Linked DNA regions of Homo sapiens. The protein of the gene in region 3 interacts with the protein of the main gene of each other region in a biochemical or structural test. Each region holds a gene or a part of one and is shown on either strand. Other genes may lie near its edges.

The links. Proteins that work in one complex are often made in the same cells at the same time.
Region 1: the proteins of NUP62 (region 3) and KPNB1 form a complex in vitro, tested with the Homo sapiens proteins (2 studies listed by BioGRID).
Region 2: the proteins of NUP62 (region 3) and NXF1 form a complex in vitro, tested with the Homo sapiens proteins (3 studies listed by BioGRID and IntAct).

Annotation. Positions count from the first base shown.
Region 1 is NC_000017.11:47,673,919-47,680,918, forward strand, and holds part of KPNB1 (importin subunit beta-1), read left to right. Parts: intron 1-719; coding exon 720-864; intron 865-2,490; coding exon 2,491-2,573; intron 2,574-3,101; coding exon 3,102-3,209; intron 3,210-4,127; coding exon 4,128-4,271; intron 4,272-4,389; coding exon 4,390-4,495; intron 4,496-6,101; coding exon 6,102-6,216; intron 6,217-6,589; coding exon 6,590-6,751; intron 6,752-7,000.
Region 2 is NC_000011.10:62,795,441-62,802,440, forward strand, and holds part of NXF1 (nuclear RNA export factor 1), read right to left. Parts: intron 6,821-7,000; coding exon 6,737-6,820; intron 6,607-6,736; coding exon 6,502-6,606; intron 6,380-6,501; coding exon 6,299-6,379; intron 6,192-6,298; coding exon 6,122-6,191; intron 5,978-6,121; coding exon 5,889-5,977; intron 5,762-5,888; coding exon 5,654-5,761; intron 5,047-5,653; coding exon 4,937-5,046; coding exon of another isoform or gene 4,882-4,936; exon of another isoform or gene 3,136-4,881; coding exon 3,099-3,135; intron 1,947-3,098; coding exon 1,878-1,946; intron 1,799-1,877; coding exon 1,743-1,798; intron 1,128-1,742; coding exon 1,020-1,127; intron 906-1,019; coding exon 847-905; intron 742-846; coding exon 626-741; intron 504-625; coding exon 461-503; intron 1-460.
Region 3 is NC_000019.10:49,918,999-49,926,888, reverse strand, and holds part of NUP62 (nuclear pore glycoprotein p62), read left to right. Parts: intron 1-7,890. UniProt on the Homo sapiens protein: Essential component of the nuclear pore complex. The N-terminal is probably involved in nucleocytoplasmic transport.

The sequences.
Region 1 (7,000 bases), on a different chromosome or scaffold from region 3:
TGGTTCCTTCCAGATGTATAGCTCATTTGTGTTGGCAGCTTGAATGGTTTTGGTTTTTTTATTTTGAAAACCAAAAAACTCTTGGTTTTTCATTAGGTTATTCAAGCCTAGCTCAGTCAGATTTGGTTCCCAGCTATAGTTCACTTGGCTAAAAATAAAGCCTTGAATTTGTACCGTCATCTTTTGAAACATTTGCTGTTTGACCTAATGTCAGTGACATTAGTTGAAACAAACGAGTGAGGAAGGAATGTTTGATGGGAGAAGTCAGGTTGGTTTGATTTTATCAAGTTTATTTCTAGGTCATCTGTAAATAGGTAGGATATAGGAAGGGTTGCTTTTTGTTTGTTTTATGAATAAGAGCTCTAAGGTGATAGGGCCTTCTCTAAAGCTGAAGTAATTTAACTATCATTCCAGTAAGACTGGACTATGGCGGCTACCAGCAGGGATTTGTCAGACAGTAAGACAAATGAAATTGAGAGGACATGACCTTCTGCACAACGGAGGATCAGCTCACGTTTGTTCTGAATTGAGAAACAGGAGAAATGTTAAAATGTATTGCTGATGATTGGTACTGTCAATGTTTTTGTGTATAAAATACATTTGGCATTCCCAAAATTAAAAAATATCAAGGGACTTAATTGATTTTAAAAAGAAAAGGTATAGTGTTCTGATTGGGAGATTTGGAATCAACTGATCTTGAACTCTTACTCATTTCACAGAATGTTCTTCGGAAAGTGCAACATCAAGATGCTTTGCAGATCTCTGATGTGGTTATGGCCTCCCTGTTAAGGATGTTCCAAAGCACAGCTGGGTCTGGGGGAGTACAAGAGGATGCCCTGATGGCAGTTAGCACACTGGTGGAAGGTCGGTGAGAAATACTGTCTGGTCAGGGAATGTCTTTGGAATGTAGGCATTTCAGTGGCCTTAAATAATTGTCACCCAGGCTGGAGTGCAGTGGCACGATCTTGGCGCACTGCAGCCTTGAAATCGTGGGCTCACATGATCCTTCCACTTCAGTGCCCCCACAGTAGCTGGGACTAACAGATGCACACCACCATGCCCAGCTAATTTTTATATTTTTGGTAGAGATGGAGTTTCGCCATGTTGCCCAGACTGGTCTTGAACTCCTGAGTCAAGTGATCCTCCTGCCTCAGCCTCCCAGAGTGCTAGGATTATAGATGTGAGCCACTGGGCCCAGCTTAATTTTGTTTGTGTGTGAAGATAGGGTCTCACTATATTGCTCAGGCTGGTCTCAAACTCCTGGGCCTCCTTGTCAGAGCATTAAAGAATTTTTGACTATAGAAAGCATAGTCCTTTTACTGGGGCATGAGTCACTTCAAAGTTAGATTGAACTTAAGTGCACACCACTTAAATTTGTATAACTGCCTTGTCAGTCCATTTAAATGGGGAGCCAGTTTGCAACGGAGATTGGCAGAGGTGTTGTTTTTTTTTTGTTTTTTTTTTTTGTTTGTTTTTTTTTTGAGACTTGTTCTGTTGCCCAGGATGGAGTGCAGTGGCACCATCTTGGCTCACCACAGCCTCCACCTCCCAGGTTCAAGCAATTCTCCTGCCTCAGCCTTCTGAGTAGCTGGGATTATAGGCATGAGCCACTGTGCCCTGCTAAAAGTTTCTATTTTCTTTCCTGGTACTTGTCATCACCTGGTTTGGTTTGTAGTGCTTTGGACTAAGATTGACACATCATGGTGCCTGGTATGGGATGAAATGAAACATTGAGCGAGTTCTAGGAATTGATTTTCTGATTTTTACATGTCTGACTGCAAAATTGGTTTGGGGAAGCCATATCTGACTTAAGACTCTTTGAAGGGGCATTACGAAGCACTTTAGGAATCTGATATGCCTTTTCAGGGGTGGCCTGTAAGTACATTGCTAAGGCCATTTACCTGAGGACCACTCTCCTGAGGACTAGACCTATTTTTGGCATAAACAGCCTATGTCCAACTGGTCTGTCAACATGTGACCACTCCTCTGAAAGGGCAAAGAAGTTAATTTTGGCTCCTGGAGTGGCTGATTTGGATCTGAAGCCCAGTGCTGCTTTTCCTGGCTGTGGCTTGTTTAGCCCTTGATGGAATTGCCTAAGGACCCTGTTTTGAAGCTGGCTTGCAGAAAGGACATGCTATTATCAGATGAGGAGGTGGACAAGAGTCAGTATTGCTGGTTCAGCCCATTTAAAATTAACCTTGACATTCCTTGAGGGTCATACCACTTGGTTGTATTAGTCAGAGTAAAGCCCTATTCTGTGGACAGTGGGCATTGTCTCTGTGGCGTATGAATTAGGGCCCTTCCAGCAGTAATAAATTTGGCTTATGCAAGCCTTTAATGTCTTCATGATGGAATCGGTAACTAAAGCACATTTCACCCAACCTGTTGAGTGGAGCGAGTACATTTTGGGAGAGGTAGGATGGGTTATTTCTGCCTGCCTCTGTGTTAACCCGTGGTGCTGTCATTGGCTAATAGCTTATTTCATTACAGTGTTGGGTGGTGAATTCCTCAAGTACATGGAGGCCTTTAAACCCTTCCTGGGCATTGGATTAAAAAATTATGCTGAATACCAGGTAGGATGTGCTTTTCAAAATAGTATGTTCCCATTTATATCTGACAGTCACTGTAGTGCACGCAAAACCAGGTTCTTATAGCTTAAGTAGTTTTTCCTGATACATTGTCCTAAAAGGCAAGCTACTTTATTCATTGCCTGAACGTTTGAACTGGAAGTAGTCCATGAAAAACAGGATATTAGATGTACCAGATAACGGTGGACAAGATATTAGATGTAACAGATAATGGTGGACAAGATGACTGTTTATTTGCTTAGACAGTACTAATGCAGGAGCAGCTATAAAGTTGAGCTATTAGCACCCTGGAGAGCAAGGCTTTTTTTTTTTTTTTTTTTTTAACTTTATCAGTGATCTCTCTCGGATAGTCTTTGTTCCCTGCCTGCCATGTTGGTTGTTGAAAAATTAATCTCGGCAGAGGGATTTAACTCTAGGTTCAAGTGATAAAAGCTCAGCAGCTAGTTAAAAATAATATCTTGCCCCAGCAGGCAGCCTTTTCTGTTAGAAGATTATTTCCTTGATTCTTGGCAGGTTTGTTTGGCAGCTGTGGGCTTAGTGGGAGACTTGTGCCGTGCCCTGCAATCCAACATCATACCTTTCTGTGACGAGGTGATGCAGCTGCTTCTGGAAAATTTGGGGGTGAGTATCTACACACAATCTAATTAACCAGTCTTCTTTGAAGAAAACAACAGTTGGAAAGATAGTTAAATATCGACCAGGCTGGGCGCAGTGGCCTGTAATCCCAGCATTTTGGGAGGCCGAGGCAGGCCAGGAGTTCGAGACCAACCTGGACAACATGGTGAAACCCCGTCTGTACTGTAGATACAAAAAAAATTAGCCGGGCGTGATGGCAGGCGCTTGTAATCCCAGCTACTCGGAAGGCTGAGGCAGGATAATCGCTTGTACCCGGGAGGTGGACGTTGCAGTGAGCCAAGATCACGCCATTGCACTCCAGCCTGGGCAAGAAGAGCCAAACTCCGTCTCAAAAAAAAAAAAAAAAAAAAAAAATCAGTGACAGGGAGCTGTAAGTTTCTAGAACATTGGCTTTGGGCTTATAAAGAGGGGAGTTGTTCATTTCACAGATGACTCTGAAGAAAGATTGTAAAGTTAAAGGAATGTGTGCTCTATTAGAGATTTTTAAAACAAAACAGTAAAATGCAAAGGAAAAGTAAATACAGTTGTTCCTTGACTTATGATGGAGTTAGGTCCCAATAAACACATTGTAAAGTGGAGAAATCATCAAACCATCATGAGCAGGGGACCATTTGTATATTATACCTCTCTCCAGAGATAGCCATCATTAATTATTGTACATGTGTGTTCTCAGACAAGTCACTTGATTCTTAAGTCAGTCTCCTCATGTGTAAAGTGGGAATACCAATACCTGGGCTAGCTTCTTAGAGTTGGTGTGAGGTGCAAATGGGAAAGGTTTTGTAAGCTATAAAGGACCATCCAAATATTTAAAATCAATAGTTGCTTGTTAGAAATGAAATTTTCATGAATCTTTGGACCAAACAAGTTTTGACTTAATTCACTTTTCCTTTTGTTCCTTGTCAGAATGAGAACGTCCACAGGTCTGTGAAGCCGCAGATTCTGTCAGTGTTTGGTGATATTGCCCTTGCTATTGGAGGAGAGTTTAAAAAATACTTAGAGGTTGTATTGAATACTCTTCAGCAGGCCTCCCAAGCCCAGGTGGACAAGGTAAGCTTAAAGCTATCTTGGCTGTTCTTTAAGTCTAGCTCTAATTGGAGGGACTATTGACAAACATGCAGCTAAAAGTGATCAGTGTGATGTAGGTTCTGTTCTTTGTGTCTTACAGTCAGACTATGACATGGTGGATTATCTGAATGAGCTAAGGGAAAGCTGCTTGGAAGCCTATACTGGAATCGTCCAGGGATTAAAGGGGGATCAGGAGAACGTACACCGTTGAGTATACAACCCAGTTCCCTTCGTCCGCTCGCCAATGTGCACTTAGCCAAGTGGGCTATGTCTGTCATTCTGTAGCTCGCTTGTGAACCTAGTGCCTGTTGCTTAAAAGGCTGGGAGAAGGGGGAGCAGTGCCCTAATGAAGAGAGTGGCTTGGGGAAAACTGTAGACTACTGTTTTTGCTCTGCTTCTTCTTTCTTTTTTTTGTTTTGAGACGGAGTCTCACTCTGTTGCCCAGGCTGGAGTGCAGTCGTGCAATCTCGGCTCACTGCAACCTCCACCTCCCAGGTTCAAGCAGTTCTCCTGCCTCAGCCTCCTGAGTAGCTGGAACTATACACATCTGCCACTATGCCTGGCTAATTTTTATATTTTTAGTAGAGGCAAGCTTTCACCTTGTTGGTCAGGCTGGTCTTGAACTCCTGATCTCAATTGATCCACCCGCCTTGGTCTCCCAAAGTGCTGGGATTACAGGCTTGAGCCACTGTGCCCAGCCTTTTAAATTTATTTTATTTTATTTTTATTTTTTGGAGACAGTCTCACTCTCACCCAAGCTGGAGTGCAGTGGAGCGATCACAGCTCACTGCAGTCTTCACTTCCTGGGTTCAAGTGATTCTTATGCCTCAGCTTCCTGAGTAGCTGGGACTACAGGCACACACCACCATGCCCAGCTATTTTTTTTTTTTTTGTATTTTAGTAGAGATGGGATTTCACCATGTTTTGCAGGCTGCTCTCGAACTCCTGAGCTCAGGCAATCTCCCACCTTGGGCTCCCAAAGTGATGGGATTTCAGGCGTGAGCCACTGCACCCAGCCCTCTGCTTCTTTTTCTCATATTTCTTGAGTATTACAAGGGATGGGATTCAGCAAAAATGTTGGGGGGAAGAAACCCAACATAAATGCTTCCTGTATCAACCATGAGTGGCAGGTCCCCTACCCCTTTCCCATCCCCACAAGCTAAATTGGAGGACTGGGGAGTCATAATTCCCGTTACGTGTTCTTGTTGCTGATTGGGGAAATTTTTTACTTCACCCCCCTTGGTATCATTAGCTCAGGAAAAAGTTAAATTTGTTTCTTCTATATTTGCCTATAGGAAGAGGAATATTTGTCTCTTCTGTCGACTTGAGGAACGACACATTAATCAAAGGAAGAATAATTTGATATAACTATATGCATCTAGTTATCCAGCTTGGACCTTGTATGATAGGGGTATAATAGTTGGAAATTTTGAAAAAGGATGTAGTCCTGCCATATGAGGGACAGCTGCATCAGACCTTCTCTCTCTTTTTTTTTTCTTTTTTTTTTGAGATGGAATCTTGCTCTGTCGCCTAGGCTGGAGCGCAGTGGCGCAATCTCGGCTCACTGCAAGCTCCGCCTCCTGGGTTCACGCCATTTTCCTACCTCAGCCTCCTGAGTAGCTGGGACTACAGGCGCCCGCCACCACGCCCGGCTAATTTTTTTGTATTTTTAGTAGAGACGGGGTTTCACCGAGTTAGCCAGGATGGTCTCGATCTTCTGACCTTGTGATCCACCCGCCTGGGCCTCCTAAAGTGCTGGGTTTACAGGCATGAGCCACCGCACCCGACCAATACCTTCTCTCTCTTTTATAGCGGATGTGATGCTGGTACAACCCAGAGTAGAATTTATTCTGTCTTTCATTGACCACATTGCTGGAGATGAGGATCACACAGATGGAGTAGTAGCTTGTGCTGCTGGACTAATAGGGTAAGTTATACCCTGCTTCTAAGAGCTGAATAGAACTTCTCACAGAAAATGAGAAAACATGGAGTAAGGAGTTTTGAGAGTATCGCGGATGGCAACAGTTCACTTTTTTGGCACAGAGATTTCTTTGCAGAACGCTTCATGTCCTGTTTTGAGTGTTCACATGATAGTTTATTCCAGACCCTCAAGGTGTCTGTATTACACCCCATTAAACTCTGATGTTGGTCAACAATTGCCTCTGTCTAGTGACCTCTACTGAGGGTTTTATTTATCTTTGAAATTTGCTAAGAAACCCATAGCACTGGTTTGGAAGGCTCAAAACATTATACTGGTATGGGGCTAGGAGCTCATTCTCAGCTGTGTTTGTTTTGCACAGGGACTTATGTACAGCATTTGGGAAGGATGTACTGAAATTAGTAGAAGCTAGGCCAATGATCCATGAATTGTTAACTGAAGGGCGGAGATCGAAGACTAACAAAGCAAAAACCCTTGCTACATGGGCAACAAAAGAACTGAGGAAACTGAAGAACCAAGCTTGGTAAGATCTTGCCTCCACTGTCCTCTTTCTTCTACTTCCTGGAGGAGGGGGGTATGTTTTCTTTAGGCCATTCTGGCAAGCACTGCCTTCTGGCATTTTTTTTGTTTGTACTTTTTCCCATGTAGGTGCTTCTGAGTCAGGCAGCCTCAGTTTTTCCTTGAGCCAAATGTTTGACTCCTCATAGTGATGGAGAGCAGAACTTTTAAAACTGGAATTCACTGAAATTCCCTGAGTATTTTGGGTCCTAAT
Region 2 (7,000 bases), on a different chromosome or scaffold from region 3:
ACTCCAGCCTGGTGATAGAGTGTGACTCCATCTCAAAAAAAAGTAATAACTACTAATCCACTGATAGCATCTGTATGCCAGGCCCCAGGCCAAGCACTTTGTAAGTCACTTCAGTTTACTTCCTATAGCACCACTATGAGACGGCTATTACTAACCCCATCTTACAAATAAAGAATCTGTCTTAGAGGTAATGTTACTTGTCCACAGCCCCGCACAACCAAAACTAGGATGGAAACTAAGAACTGCCTGACTCCAAAGTCCTCCTAATCCCCAGGCTTTTCCCACATCCAGACAGGACAGGTGGAGAGGTAGGCCAAGCCAAGACGGCTTGGGGGCAGAATGGGAGAAGGAGCTCAAAAAGAAAATGGGAGAGAAAGTAGCTGGGAAGCTAAGAGTGCTGAGGAAAATTCCAGCTGGGGGTGGGACCACGCTACAAACTCGGGACTCTAAAGATTCTTACCTTCCTTGAAGACTCCATTGACAGAAAAACACAGCAATGTGCTCTGAAAGAGAAGCAGCATCAGGTACAATGTACACTTCTCAGAGCCTGAGTGCCCCCCCTTGCCTATTAAATGCCACCCCCACCCCAATTCTAGGCTTCTGTCAGGCGCAAGCAGGAGCTTACTGTCTGGGCGCTTATGTCTACCACGAAGGAATTGACGTCGTGCTGGGTTTTGGGCAACTCATTGAGGAAGGCAACAACGTTGAGACGCGTGTGCTTCAGCAGCCGGAACCGCAAGGCTGTGGGTAGAGGAGAAAGCTCAGTGGTGCTGCCACACACTCCTGAGTTCTGACTGATTCCTTCCCATGCCCTTTTCCCATATTTTGTTCGTATCACACACTTACTAGGGTCTTTAAGCTTCTTCACATTTCTGCTATCCTTGAAATACTCGGCTAAGCTGCTTCTGGGGGAATAAAAGGAATGGACGTGGTGTTCAGAGCAGTGCTGCCAGCAGGTGTGCCCTGTATCTGCTGGGAAACCCAGTGGTCCCGGGCAGATTCTGGGATGTGATACTAACCGGGCAGGGTTCTGAGGAATGAAAGGAATGCTCAGGGAACAGCAGGCCCCATCATGGTAGGCATCCAGGAGCCCTTGTCGGTCTCCAGAGTCGTAAATTGCATAGTACCTATGGGAAAAACAAAAAAGAAAGTATGGGCTCTGTGGTCTACAGCCATACAAGGACCCAGTAGCTCCCAAGAGTGAGTTGTGGCCGGGCATGGAAGCTCATGCCTGTAATCCCAGCACTTTGGGAGGCTGAGATGGGTGAATAGCTTGAGCCCAGGAGTTCAAGACCAGCCTGGGCAACATGGCGAAACCCTGTCTCTACTAAAAATACAAAAAAAATGGCTAGGTGCGGTGGCTCACGCCTCTAATCCCAACACTTTGGGAGGAAGAGGCAGGTGGATCATGAGGTCAGGAGTTGGAGACCAGCCTGGCCAACATAGTGAAATCCCATCTGTACGAAAAATACAAAAATTAGCCAGGTGCAGTGGCACACACCTGTAGTCCCAGCTACTGGGGAGGCTGAGGCAGGAGAATCACTTGAACCCTGGGAGGCAGAGGTTGCAGTGAGCCAAGATCACACCATTGCACTCCAGCCTGGGTGACACAGTGAGACACTGTCCAAAAAAAAAAAAAAAAACAAAACAAAAAACAAAACAAAAAGATTGATGTGTGCCTGGGTCTGCCCACCATTCCCCCTCAACCTCGGGGTGGGGAGGGGGGACCCTGGGATACTTACTGTTGCAGGAAGTGCAAGACCAGACTCTTCAAGTTTTCTGTTCCAAAATAGCTTCCCTGAAATCAAACAGGTATTAGGAACATGGAAGCAGTATTCTCTCCACACACAAGTTCTTACTCTGTCCATGCTTCCTACCTTGCAGGGCGGTAACGTCGTGGGGGCTTCAACATCAAAGGCAATTGGTGGGGGTAGCTCATGGCCATCCTGTGGAAAGGAAGTAAAAGTTGACAGTGTAGACTGGGCCCAGTGGCTCACACCTGTGATCCCAGAACTTTGGGAGGCCGAGGCAGGCAGATGGCTTGAGCTCAGGAGTTTGAGACCAGCCTGGCTGGACAACGTGGCAAAACCCATCTCTACCAAAAAAAATACAAAAATTAGCTGGGCATGGTGGTGCGTGCCTGGAGTCCTAGCTACTTGGGAGGCTGAAGTGGGAGGATCACTTGAGCCTGGCAGGCGAAGGTTGCAGTAAGCTACGATTGTGCCACTGCACTCCAGCCTGGATGACAGAGCCAGACCCTGTCTCAAAAAACAAAACAAACAAAAAAGAAAGTTGACAGTTTAAACCAGAGAGAAAAAGGCTGGGTGCATAAGTAGACTGAAGAACTAAGAGAGAAGGGTCAGAAGTCAAGTGTAAACGCATCATGAAAAGTATCCAGGGATCCAGGCTGGGCGCAGTGGCTCACACCTGTAATCCCAGCACACTGGGAGGCCAAGGTGGATGGATTAGTTGAGGTCAGGAGTTCAAGACCATCCTGGCCAACAAGATGAAACCCCCATCTCTACTAAAAATACACAAAGAAATTAGCCGGGCATTGTGGCACATGCCTGTAATCCCAGCTACTCAGGAGGCTGAGGCAGGAGAATCACTTGAACCCAGGAGGCAAACGGTGCAGTGAGTCAAGATTGCACCACTGCACTCTGGGTAACAGAGCAAGACTCCATCCAAAAAAAAAAAAAAAAAGGGCCTGGTGCGAGTGGCTCACGTCTGTAATCCCAGCACTTTGGGAGGCCGAGGTAGGTGGATCACCTGAGGTCAGGAATTCAAGGCCAGCCTGGCGAACATGGTGAAACCCTGTCTCTACTAAAAATACAAAAATTAGCCAGGTGTGGTAGCACATGCCTGTAATCCCAGCTACTTGGGCTCAGGAGGCTGAGGCAGGAGAATCGCTTGAACCTGGGAGGCAGAGGTTGCGGTGAGCTGAAATCATGCTGTTGCACTCCAGCCTGGGCGACGAGTGAAACTCCGTCTCAAATAAAAAAAAAAAAAAGAAAAAGAAAAAGAAAAAGAAACCTATCCAGGAATCCTTGTGAGTGAGAGATGCTGTGCTTGTTAGAATGAAAAAATTATGGACTTACCAGGCGTAGTAACTTGGGAAATCGTTCGCGAATGGCGCTGTCAAGAACGGGACAGAAGTGAGTGATGCTTCAGAGCCACCGTGCCTCCTGGGCTGCTCTAGGAGCAAATATACCAAACCCGAGGGACAGCCCATCCCATCCTGCTCATCCCTCCACTCCCTCCCAGCCTGTGCTCAGGGAAAAATGGCCCCCACTCCCCACCTGACCCGGGGCACCCAGACATGGACTGCCTTGAAGGCTGTCTCTTTTCTCTCTGCCTGACCCTGAGTGTCAAGGAGCAGTACTCCAAGCCCAGGCTTTAAGCCCAGGACCTCTTTCCCCTCCCTGCCCCCCTTACCTTCCACCTACTCACCTGTGCAGCCCCGGGAGGAGGGAATGGGGTGGGAGCCCAGGGGCTCCGCTGCCTCACCAGGTATCCATCAGTTCTGCCAGGTCTGGCTTTGGCCAAGACCCAAACACACCACAGGGATGGCACAGGATGTTGGGGCAGGGAGATGAGCAGGTGGGGCTCAGGAAGAGGAGAGGCAAAGGAATAAGAAAGGAAAAGGAGGAAAAAGAGAAAAAGGCAAGATGGGGCAGGGGCAAGGGAGAGATGGGGAGGTATAGGAGACAGACAGAAAAAGGAAAGAGAAAGCAAAGAAAAAGAGAAAGAACTACAAGGCAAAAAAGCATCTAGAAAAATGAGGGAGAAAAGGGAGAAAGACACCCTGACACAGCCCTTTCTTTCAGCTGCCCCATCCCTGTGGTCCAAGGTAGAAATGAGAAACAAATCCTTGCTGTGGTGAGTGGGCACTTGCTGTTGGCCAGGTCTCTGTCTGCTACCTGGGTCCCGATCTGAACTGGGCGTGGGAAGCAAAGCAGCCATGGGGGCAGGAGACCTCCCTCAGAAGGTGTGAGGGTTCAGGCCCCTGTAGGATTGTGGGGGTGAGGGTCCATGCCCCACCTCTGTTGCCCCCAAGTTCTCTCCTGATGGCCCCTCTGCGACTGTGCCTGTCTTAGGTTGTTCCTTCCCTGAGGAATCTTACCCGTCTCTGGCTAACCAGCCATCCACCGGGGCCAAACAGGGTGACGTGCAGTGTGTGAGTGAGGGAGAGGCAGCGCCCCCGAGGGGGTCAGTTCTCTGTCTCCTTGGTAGCCTATGCCCCCGTGGCCTCCACGCCCAGCACCTGCCTTGGGATTCCCTCGCCTGCTGGCGGGGCCCCAGCTCTGGTCACATCTTGGGGAACCCAGGTTTCTTCTTCAGGGAGAGCCCAGCTCATAGCACTGGGCAAGAGAGACAGATTGCATGCCACCAGCCCCTAGGAGGCCTCAACCTCAGCATGGACAGCAACAGCCCTGGGCAAGTGGATCCTGAGAAAAGGGTCCCTCTTGGCGCAAGGGCAAGAGGGGCCATCACAGTACAAAGGAGGGAAGGCCCATCTCAGTAGGAAGTCCCAGGTAGGGAGGGCTTCCTCAACCCATGGACACCAGGCTCTTGGCACAAGGCAACCCCATCTATAGGGTATGTACAAGATACCCTCTGGTTAGAGTAGAAAGGGGAGATGCCTTTCCTGGAACAACAGGGTAGGGAGATTCTAGAAAAGGTTGTGTTCAGGAAGAAAGAGAAAGGCCACAGACCCAGCAAACAGATAGTCAAGTCAGAAGAGAAGAGAGAACATCTCAGGACAAAGCTGGAAGACACAGACAGACCAAAGTGGGGAGCACGCGATCCTCTCAAAGGACAGGTGGTTCCAGCTCAGGGCTGCACATCTCCGCAGACGGGCCCTGGTCAGGATGCATTAGCTCAGCCTCCCAGGGGGTGAAGGTCCCCAGGAGGGGAGACACAGGCTACAACTGACCTGATGTAGGTGGACTGGTCTCGGAAGGTGTCACACAGGGAGTTTCCATCGAGCCAGAGCTCTTCTAGCTTCAGCCCCTTTATCTTGTCCAATTCCCGCTCAGACTTCAACTGCAAAGGGTGGAAGGAACAAAGGGAGGAGACCCTGGTGAAGACAGCCAGCTGGCTCCCCATACCCCCAGTCCCTACGCTTAGCTCTGAGATCTTTTCTAATCTTTTAAAATTTTTTCTTTTTTTTTTTTTTTTGGGACAGGGTCTCACTCTGTCACCCAAGTTCAGTGCCGTGGCATGATCATAGTTCACTGCAGCCTCAAACTCCTGGACTCAAGAGATCCTCCCACCTCAGACTCCTGGGTAGCTAGGACTACAGGCATGTGACATCATGCTCGACTAATTTATTTTTTAAATTAAAAAAATTTTTTTGAGACAGGTTGCTCAGGCTAGAATGCAACGGCACAATCATAACTCACTGCAGCCTTGAACTCCTGAGCTCAAGCAATCCTCCCACCTCAGCCCCCTGGGGCAGCTTGGACTAGAGGCGTGCAAACTCCTAGCCTTAAGTGATCCTCCTGCCTTGGCCTCCCAAAGTGTTAGGATTAGAGTTGCAAACCAGCACATCTGGCCTGAGTTCTCTCTCTTGCCTCTTGCCATCACTGGACAAACTCTCTACACCCTCTACCCACCCCTTCAAAAATATAGCCGAGCTATCAATTCTCACTTCATTTCCAGAAAGGTTTAGGATCTTCAGGTTGGGTGCCTTCTGAACAATGCTAGACATGTCATCCAGCCTGTACAGCCTGTTGTTGCTCAAGTTCAAGGACAATAGCTGTGAGGAGAGAAGAGTTTAGAGGAGGCACCACCAGCAAGTGGATCAGAGACGAATCTGCCCTCCAGCCACTTCCTATCTAACACACCCTGCTTCCTCATGCCTAATACTGGGCCAAAGGCCTTACCTCAGGGATGTTCTCTTCAATGATCCTCAGGGTAGCTGCCATACAGCTTCTGCGATTCAGGACAACGTCAATGTTCTGGGCCACCAAATCTTCAGGAAGCAGAAGGGAAGGAAAGGGAAGACTGAGAGGGTTTGCCCATGCCAGCATTAGCAGTAAAACATCCTCAAACTTTCCCTCCCTGACAGATCCCACCTTATCACCACCTATCTGAGAACTACTGCTGTCAACCATACCTGGGTCTGAACGGAGGCCTTTGAGGTCAAGGGCTTGTTGGGAGCCATCGTATCGTTTGCTCATGATCAGCTAGAGGAAAAAGAAGGGTTTAGTGGTCACTGGGTTTGTGTGTGGGGGGTGGGGGTGTGAGAAGTAGTAAGACTGGGTTGGAAACATCTAATTTGAGCCTGCCTCACCTTTAGCTGTTCTACTTGTTCTGGCTTCAGTTCATTCAGTATAGTGTGGGGTGGAGCAGAAGAGTTGATGATGATAGATATCTGGAGGGAAGACACAGAGGGCACAGAAAACTCTAGGGAAGCCTAAGCCGCAAGAACAAGACCCAGTCCCTGCTCTGAGCACCAACCTCCACCTCCAGCCAAGCCAGGCCCTTTAAACACACCCTTCGGTTCTCCCGATCCAAAATCTTATAGTTGACAGCCTTCAATGCAGAGGCAGTACTGGCGTCTTCAACGAAGAACTGGGCCCGTGTATTCTCATAGTGAAACTACAAGAGGAAACAGGAGCATTACACTGGGAGTCCAGAGCCCTTGGGGAGGGGCATTACGCTGGGAGTCCAGCTTGCCCCTTCACCATCCCTGGTGCCTGGCCAGCCAGCCACTCAGGCCTTGTCTTACCTCAATAGGGGTGAAGGGCACACTGCACTTGCTCTGAATCATGCTCAGGAGCCATGCCTTGTCATACTTTCTGCCATAAGGAATCTAGAAATGAGAGAAAGAGAAAAGAAGGGAATGATAAGTAAGGCTGAATAGCAGACCCAATACAATGCCTTTTATACCTTCTACCAAACTTTTAAAGACTATCTAAAGAAAGGACCAGTACTAGGTTTTCTACTTGAGATACACATAGATTCTTTAACTCCTTTCTGTCTACTTACACTT
Region 3 (7,890 bases):
GTGAGACCTCGTCTCAAAAAAAAAAAAAAAAAAGTACCTACTTCTTAGGGCTGTTACAAGGATTAAATGAGTTAATCCGTGTCGAGCAGTTAGACTAACGCCTGGGACACAGTAGGTGCTGCATAAAAGTGGTTATTGTTATTGCTGTAATTAAGGTGGATGTGTTCTCATTCCATTGCTGTATAGATTTTTGAACAAAAGCAGATGGAATTAAGGGTAGACTGTTGGGCAGACTGCCAGTGGTAAGGACGCACAGACGTGCCCTATCTCCCCCGCCCCGCCGGTAGAATCTTTTCCTACGAAGATCTTCTAGATTGTACATGGGGACTGGGTTTGGTTTGGTTTGGTTTGGTTTTTTTGAGACAGAGTCTTGCTGTGTCGCCCAGGCTGGAGTGCAGTGGCATGATCTTGGCTCACTTCAACCTCCACTTCCCAGATTCAAGCAATTCTCCTGCCTCAGCCTTCCAAGTAGCTGGGATTACAGGCGCCCACCACCACGCCTGGCTAATTTTTGTATTTTTAGTAGAGACGGGGTTTTGCCATGTTGGCCAGGCTGGTCTTGAACTCCTGACTTCAGGTGATCCACCCACCTCGGCCTCCCAAAATGCTGGGATTTACAGGCATGAGCCACCACACCCAGTCTTAAGCAAGACCTAGCTTTTTTTTTTTTTTTTTTTTTTGAGACAGAGTCTCGCTCTGTTGCCCAGGCTGGAGTGCAGTGGCACCGTCACAGCTCACTGCAACCACCGCCTCCCAGGTTCAAGCCATTCTCCTGCTTCAGGCTCCAGAGTAGCTGGGATTACAGACATGCACCATCATGCCTGGCTAATTTTTATATTTTTAGTAGATACAGGGTTTCACCATGTTGGTCAGGCTGGTCTCGAACTCATGACCTCGTGATCTGCCTGCCTCAGCCTCCCAAAGTGCTGGGATTACAGGTGTGAGCCACCGTACCCAAGGGGGTTATTTTTTAAATAAAATTTTTTATTTTGGAATAATTGTAGATTGACTCAACAGAAAAGTTGCAAAGATAATACGGAGAATTTCTGTATGCCCCTCACTTGGTTTTTTCCATTAACATTTTACATTACTTTGCCACATTTGTCACAACCAAGGCAACATCAGTATGTTACCATTGACCAAATGCCATTCTTGATTCTGACCACACTTGATGCTGATTTTGGTAGTTGTTACTTAATGCCCTTTCTGCTCCTTCCGGATGCCTTCAGGATGCCACGTTATATTTAGGCATCATGGCTCCGCAGCCTCCTCTGGCCTGTGACTGGTTTTAGACTTTCCTTGTCCTTCATGACCTTGACAGTTTGGAAAAATGCTGGTTGGGTATTTTATGGAATGTGCTTCCATTTGGTTTTGTCTCAGACTGGGATTGCGGGATATTGAGAGGATGGCCAGGTAGGATGCTATTTTTTTTTTTTTTTGGCTTTTTTTAGTAGAGATGGGGGGGAGGGTCTTACTATGTTGCCCAGGCTGGTCTTGAATTCCTGATTCCTGGGCTCAAACGATCCTCCTGCCTCACCCTCCCAAAGTGTTAGGATTACAAGCCTGAGCCACTGTGCCCGGCCTGGGTTTTTTGTTTTGTTTTGTTTTTTAATTTTTTTGGTTTTTTGAGACGGAGTTTCACTCTTGTTGCCCAGGCTGGAGTGCAATGGTGCCATCTCGGCTCACCGCAACCTCTGCCTCCTGGGTTCAAGAGATTCTCCTGCCTCAGCCTCCCGAGTAGCTAGGATTACAGGCATGTGTCACCACACATGGCTAATTTTGTATTTTTAGTAGAGACGGGGTTTCTCCATGTTGGTCAGGCTGGTCTCGAACTCCCGAACTCAGGCGATCCACCCGCCTCAGCCTCCCAAAGTGCTGGTATTACAGGCGTGAACCACCGCGCCTGGCCCGGTGTGGGTAATTTTTAATAGCTTGGTCAGTAGGAGAATTGCATTGCTGGCTATGTGCGGTTTATGCTGGCTGCAGAGGTGTCTGGGCAGGGACTCTGCTTCCCCTCCCCACCGTTTTGCCGCCTTTTCTCTCTAGCTATTGGGTCCCACCCACTTCAGCCCAGCCAGACTTAGCAGCTGGACTCAGGGTGAGTGGGTGCCAGTTGGCACCCTTAGCTCTCCAGCCCCTCCCAGCCTGTTCTAGTTCATAGCCGGTCATCAGTGGTTGCCTGCGACCCTTCTCCCCAGATCTTCGAACCCTGAGTCCCCTCGTGTGCACATTCCTGACCCAGGCCTGTGGCCCCTTCAGGACTCATGTCCTGGCCTCCCCCAGCCTCGAGCTCCCCTTCAACTCCTGAGCTGGGGCTTGAAGCAAGGGTGGGGCTACTGGGGACTCTTTTTCGGTGCGGAGGGGCCTGGCTTGGGGAGTGAGGCGGTGGTTGCAGGCAGGTTGCATCAGCCCTGGCTGTTTGACGGGGACGGGGAGTTCGGGGATTCTCTGGGGACCCCAGCACACCTGGCAACCGCTCCCGGTTAGCAGAGCCTTGGATAAGGGAGAACCCCCGCACAGCAAGAGTAGGGGTGGTGTGGAGAGGGAGGGAGATCAGCCACCCGTGCAGGACCCTGAGAATCTGAGGCTCGGTGCCAAGAAGGGGCCTCAGATCACAGAGGCTTGTTAGCAGGAGTCAAGACTGAGGTCCCGAGAGGTAAGGGGGGTTGTGAAAATCACAGTGCCAGTTAGATGGGACCTCAGCCTCCACCATGCTGCACAGCTTCCAGGGCCCCGAGGCCCATGGTGTAGTCTCTGGGAGGTCTCCAAGCCCTGACCCTCACCTCAGGCCTGCTGCTGCTCACAGTTGCCAGACGCTATCGATTCCTGCCTGCACCTGCACCGTGCCATCGCCCTGCTATTGCCGCAACTCCTCACTGCTTTCCCAATCACGGTGGCCTCCTGGCATGATGGAAAAGGCTCCGAGTTTTGCATCAGACAGACCGGGGTTCTGGTCCTGAGCCCAGCACTCAGTTGTAGACTGGAGTGCAGGCAGGGCCCTCATCTGCCGAGCCTCGGCTGCCTTCCGCAGCGTGGGTCAGAGCATGGGCCCTAGAGCCAGCCTGCTGGGTTCACACCCCAACTCCACCACTTCTGTGACCCTCAGCAAGTGGCATCCTCTTTCTATGACTCAGTTTCCCCTCCGTAAAATGGGGATGAGATGGTCCATTGCAGACGGTGGTTTTGAGGATTAAATGTGTAAATGTGCGTGAAATACCTAGAGTGGGGCCTGGCATAGGGAAATGCCCTGTGAGCAGTAGTTCCTGCTCTGGGGCCTGGTGTGGGAGCGCTGTGGAGATGGCATCAGTGAAGCCGGCGGCTGCCAGAGCCCGGGTCTGTGTGTGATTCTCTCTGTTCTCGCCACGCCTGCTTCTGCTTTCAGATCCGCCGTGTGCAGATGTCTGCCTACGTGACTGCTCCCCCGAACGCTTCGAGGGCAAAGTCAGGGCCCTCCTCATTCCCAGAAACGTTCCCCACAACCCCCCGCCCTGTGCTGCTATTTCCGTAGGCATCAATACATTTTCTAATGAGTTGCTCAGCACAGAGGCCAGCGAATGTGATACTGAGGTCCCTGAGAGGAGCCAGGGAGGGTAACTGGGTCACGCAGGCCAGGGGTGCCGGGGTTGAAGGTGGGAGTCCTGGCAAACAAGGGCAGGTAGGCCAAGGCCAGCTCAGTTGGGGAGAGGATGACGCGGGGGCTGGGAGACAGCACAGGCTGCCACGTGGCCCACAGTCCTCCAGAGCCCCTTCCCTCCCTTGTGCCTGCCCTTGTCCCTTCAGTAGAAGCAGTCACAGCTCTTATGCAAAAAAAAAGGGACACAGCAAACTGATAACAACTGACACCAGTGTCCTAGAGCCCAGGATGCCATCACTCACCGCTTAGTGGTCTGGGACAAGATACTGTACCCCCCGACCTGTGGTCACCTCATCAGTAAAATGGGCACAATCATAGAACTACCTTGGGGCAGTGTGGAGGGGCAGGGGGTTGACATGGGAAGAGGCCTGGACCGGTGAACTGCTGACCACCTTGGGCCCTGTGTCAGGCCCAGAGGGAGGGGTGGCTCCCAGAAGCACCTGGGCCCCTGAAAGGCACCGGGGCCGCAGCAACACTGGCAGCGCTGGTGGTGCAAAGCTGCTGGTTTCACGGGAGAAGCTGGAAATCCAGTTTTTTTTTTTTCTGTGAGATCCAAGTTTTAAAGGTAGGCAAGTAATTCAGAAAAACCTGGAAAACCCCAGCAAACCACCAGTGTGGACAGGACTCAGGCTGCTGGCCCTCTGTGACTTCCCCTCCCCACAGCTGTCATCCTCTCTGTCCACAGCAGAGAGCAAAAGGAACCCAGCCCTCATTCCAAGAGTCTCCGAGGATTGAGGCTGGTCCCCTCTGTGCTGGACTTTACAAGCAGTGAGACGGAGTAGGGCTTCATTCCGACACAGCCCGGTCCCATGTGAAGGAGGGGAGGACAGTGTTTCTGGGGAGCAGAGGAGGAGGCCTAAAGAATCCTTCCTGAGGTTCAGGATGCCTGCTGGAAGTGGGGCTGGTGTCTTATTACTCTCTTCCTAATCCCCATGCCCCCAGCCAGAGGCCACCAGGAGCACATTGCTCATTGCGGCAGGAAGACTGTCCCCCACAGGGACTCGCAGGGCACCTCAATAAGGAGGCGTTTGGGCTAACTTGAGGAGTTGGGCTGTGTCAGGGGCAAGCCCATGACTCGCATCTATTTGACCTAGAGCCTGAGAAGCAAAGGGAGCTAGTGCCGCCGGGGTTAGTTGAGAAACAGCCAGCAGCTCTGAGTCAGGAGGGGTGTTTGGTCGTTTCTGTGGTTTGGACATCATGTTGTCTGTGTTGAGGCGTGATTCAGGAGTGGGCTTGTTGTCTTGGTCCCTCGTGGTCGTGGTGGCCTGGCCTGGGGCCCTAGGGCCCTGCCGTCGGGGCTGCTTTCTCGCAGCAAATGCACTCATCCTGCCAAGATGGAAGGGAGGTGAGAGCCACCGCTGTGTCCAGAGGAGGCAGCTCCTGCATTCGTCTGGCCCAGGATATGTGGTTCCTACAGGGTTGCTTGGGCACGGAGGAAAGTACCCGGGCTTGAGCCCAGCCAGCACTCATAGGATGGATGGTCATGGTCGGAGCTGCGGGGAGAGGCAGAGGCGGGGAACCATGGTGGGAGGGCCTCACGGGACCCCTAGGCTCCCTAGGTGCCCCCTCAATGGGCAGAGGGGTACCCCCCATGGAGAGTTTTGAGGTCAGCGGCCATCAGAGCGCCAGGCCTTAGCCCAGTTTGATGCAGACTCCTTTGCCCTCTTCTTCCTGACCTACCACAGAGCAGGAACGTATGGGGGTTGGCGAGCAGCGGACGCCCCTCTCTTCCCTGCAGGCGTCTCAGGCCATCGTCTGCAGCTGGGGCGGGCGGATCATCCTGAATTGGATTTGAGAGTGAAGCCCAGGCTGGTCTGGAAGGTCATGGAGATGGCCCAGGAAGTCTCTGGAGAATGGGAAGGGGGACTGGATGAGGCAGGGGACGGTGATGGTGGTGGCAGTGGGGAGCAAAAAAAGACCATGTTTTGGAGAGGCTCGGTGCGGTTAGGAGCTCAGCTGTGGGGCCAGACACCTGGGCCAGCCCTTACTGGTTGTGGGACTTTACGCAGGTGACTGAAGTCCTCTCCCCTTTCTCAGTTTGCTCATTTATAAATGGGAGCCATGATAGTTTCGCTTCGTCACATTGCTGGGGGAAAGTTAAGTGAGTGAGAACAGGTGAAGCCCTGGAAACAGCCCAGCGCGTGAGAAATGCCATGAAATGTGGGTGTGGAGATGTCCGCCGAGGCAGGAAGGGGCTGTGTTTGCTTCCAGTTCTCATAATGAAAGCCACCCTGCCCCCATCTTCTGGCTGCCTTCACCTGGTTCCCAGAGAAACCTCCATAGCAACCGTCTCCACCACAGCCCGGCCTGGGCCCTTCCCTCCTTCCCCCACCAACATCACTGCCTCTCCCCGGGGAAGCTGATGTTGACAAGAAGAGGGGCTGCGGATGGGGCACAGGTGTGCGCCGTTCCTCCCCCGCCACACACGCCTGTCCGCTGCTCTCAGAGTCCCTCAGCCCTGATGCCTCAGTCCCTCTCCAGGCCTTGATGTCCTGTGCCTGCACCGCCAACCAGAGCGTTTCAGCTCTAGGCTCTTCCCCAGCCTGTTCTCAACCAGCATTACCGGCCACCCCAAGGAAGGCATGGGCCTGCCCTTAGAAACTCTGCCCGAGCCGTTGCCCTCGGGGTAAAGTCAGCTCTGAGCCTGACGCCTATCCGCCTCCACAGCCTCATGGAGGCCTCTCAACCCCTTCCCAGCACCCCCTGGTTGGTTGGTTGGTCGGTTGGTTGGTTGAGTGGCTTTATTGAGATACTGTATAATCCATATCCATTTATCAGTGTCCAACTTAGTGGCTTTAGTACGTTGACAGAGTTGTGCAGCCATCACCACAGTCAATTTTAGAACATTTTCATCACGCTAAAAAGAAACTCCTAGGCCGGGCATGGTGGCTCACGCCTGTAATCCCAGCACCTTGGGAGACCGAGGTGGGCGGATCTCAAGGTCGAGAGATTCATACCATCCTGGCCAACATGGCGAAACCCCGTCTCTACTAAAAATACAAAAGTTAGCTGGGTGTGGTGGCACGCGCCTGTAGTCCCAGCTACTTGGGAGGCTGAGGCAGGAGAATAGCTTGAACCCGGGAGGCAGAGGTTGCGATGAGCTGAGATCACGCCACTGCACTCCAGCCTGATGACAGAGTGAGACTCCGTCTCAAAAAAAAAAAATTAGCTGGTGTGGTGGCACACATGTGTAATCCCAGCTATTAGGGAGGCTGAGGTGGGAGGCCCACTGGAGCCCGGGAGGTTGAGGCTATGAGCGTGATTGCACCACTGCACTCCAGCCTGGGAGACAGAGTGAGACCTTGTCTTAGAAAAAAAAAAATTTTTTTTTAATGCAGTAGGTAGAGGGGAAAAAACTTTCAATACAAGAGTAAGAAATAAAAGTTATTGGCCAAAAAGGAAGAAGCCTTGGCACCAGAGTATTCCTCAAATCTCTTCCAGTCCTTTTATATTAAGAGCAAGCGGTGGTTCTAGAATCTTCCTTAAAATCTCTCTCTGGCTGTTTCCTAACTTTTCCATGGTTGTCTTAGCTGATTCGTTTTTCCTGTGGGGAAAATTGCTGTTGGTCCTGCGACCAGAGCTCCTTTGGTAGCTTCTGGGCCTGGGGAGTGGGAAGGAGAAAGTAGCTGCTAATTAGCCGTCAGGTGACTTCAGGGGAAAGCAGGAGAGAAGGTTGAAAATCAGTGAATCCACAAATCATTTAGCTACTGCCTTGAGGCCATCCTGTGTAGCAAGTGGCAGAGGCAGGATTTTGGTACCCTGGGCAAGTCGCCCCCTCTGAGGGCCTCGGTTTCCTCATCTACCCGGGTGAGGAGAATAAGCCTGCTTAAAACGATTTCTAAGATACATAAAGAACAGTAGAGAACAGTGCATGTAGCAGGCGGCCTTTTGTGTGCAGGTGGGGATAGTGCCAACCACGCTTTTGTTTAAACGCACAGCAAGTCTCTGCAAAGATGTGCAACAGCAGCCTGTCTCCAGGGAGCAGGGCTGGGAGGCTGTGGGACTCAGGGAAGACAGGCCACACTATTCCCTTTTGTACCTTTTGAGCTACAACAATGTGAACATACTACCTATTCACAAAATGAGTTAGTTTGTTTTTTTGAGACCGAGTTTCACTCTTGTTGCCCAGGCTGGAGTGCAGTGGTGTGATCTCGGCTCACTGCAACCTCCGCCTCCCAGGTTCAAGCAATTCTCCTGCCTCAGCCTCCCGAGTAGCTGGGATTACAGGCATGCACCACCATACCTGGCTAATTTTG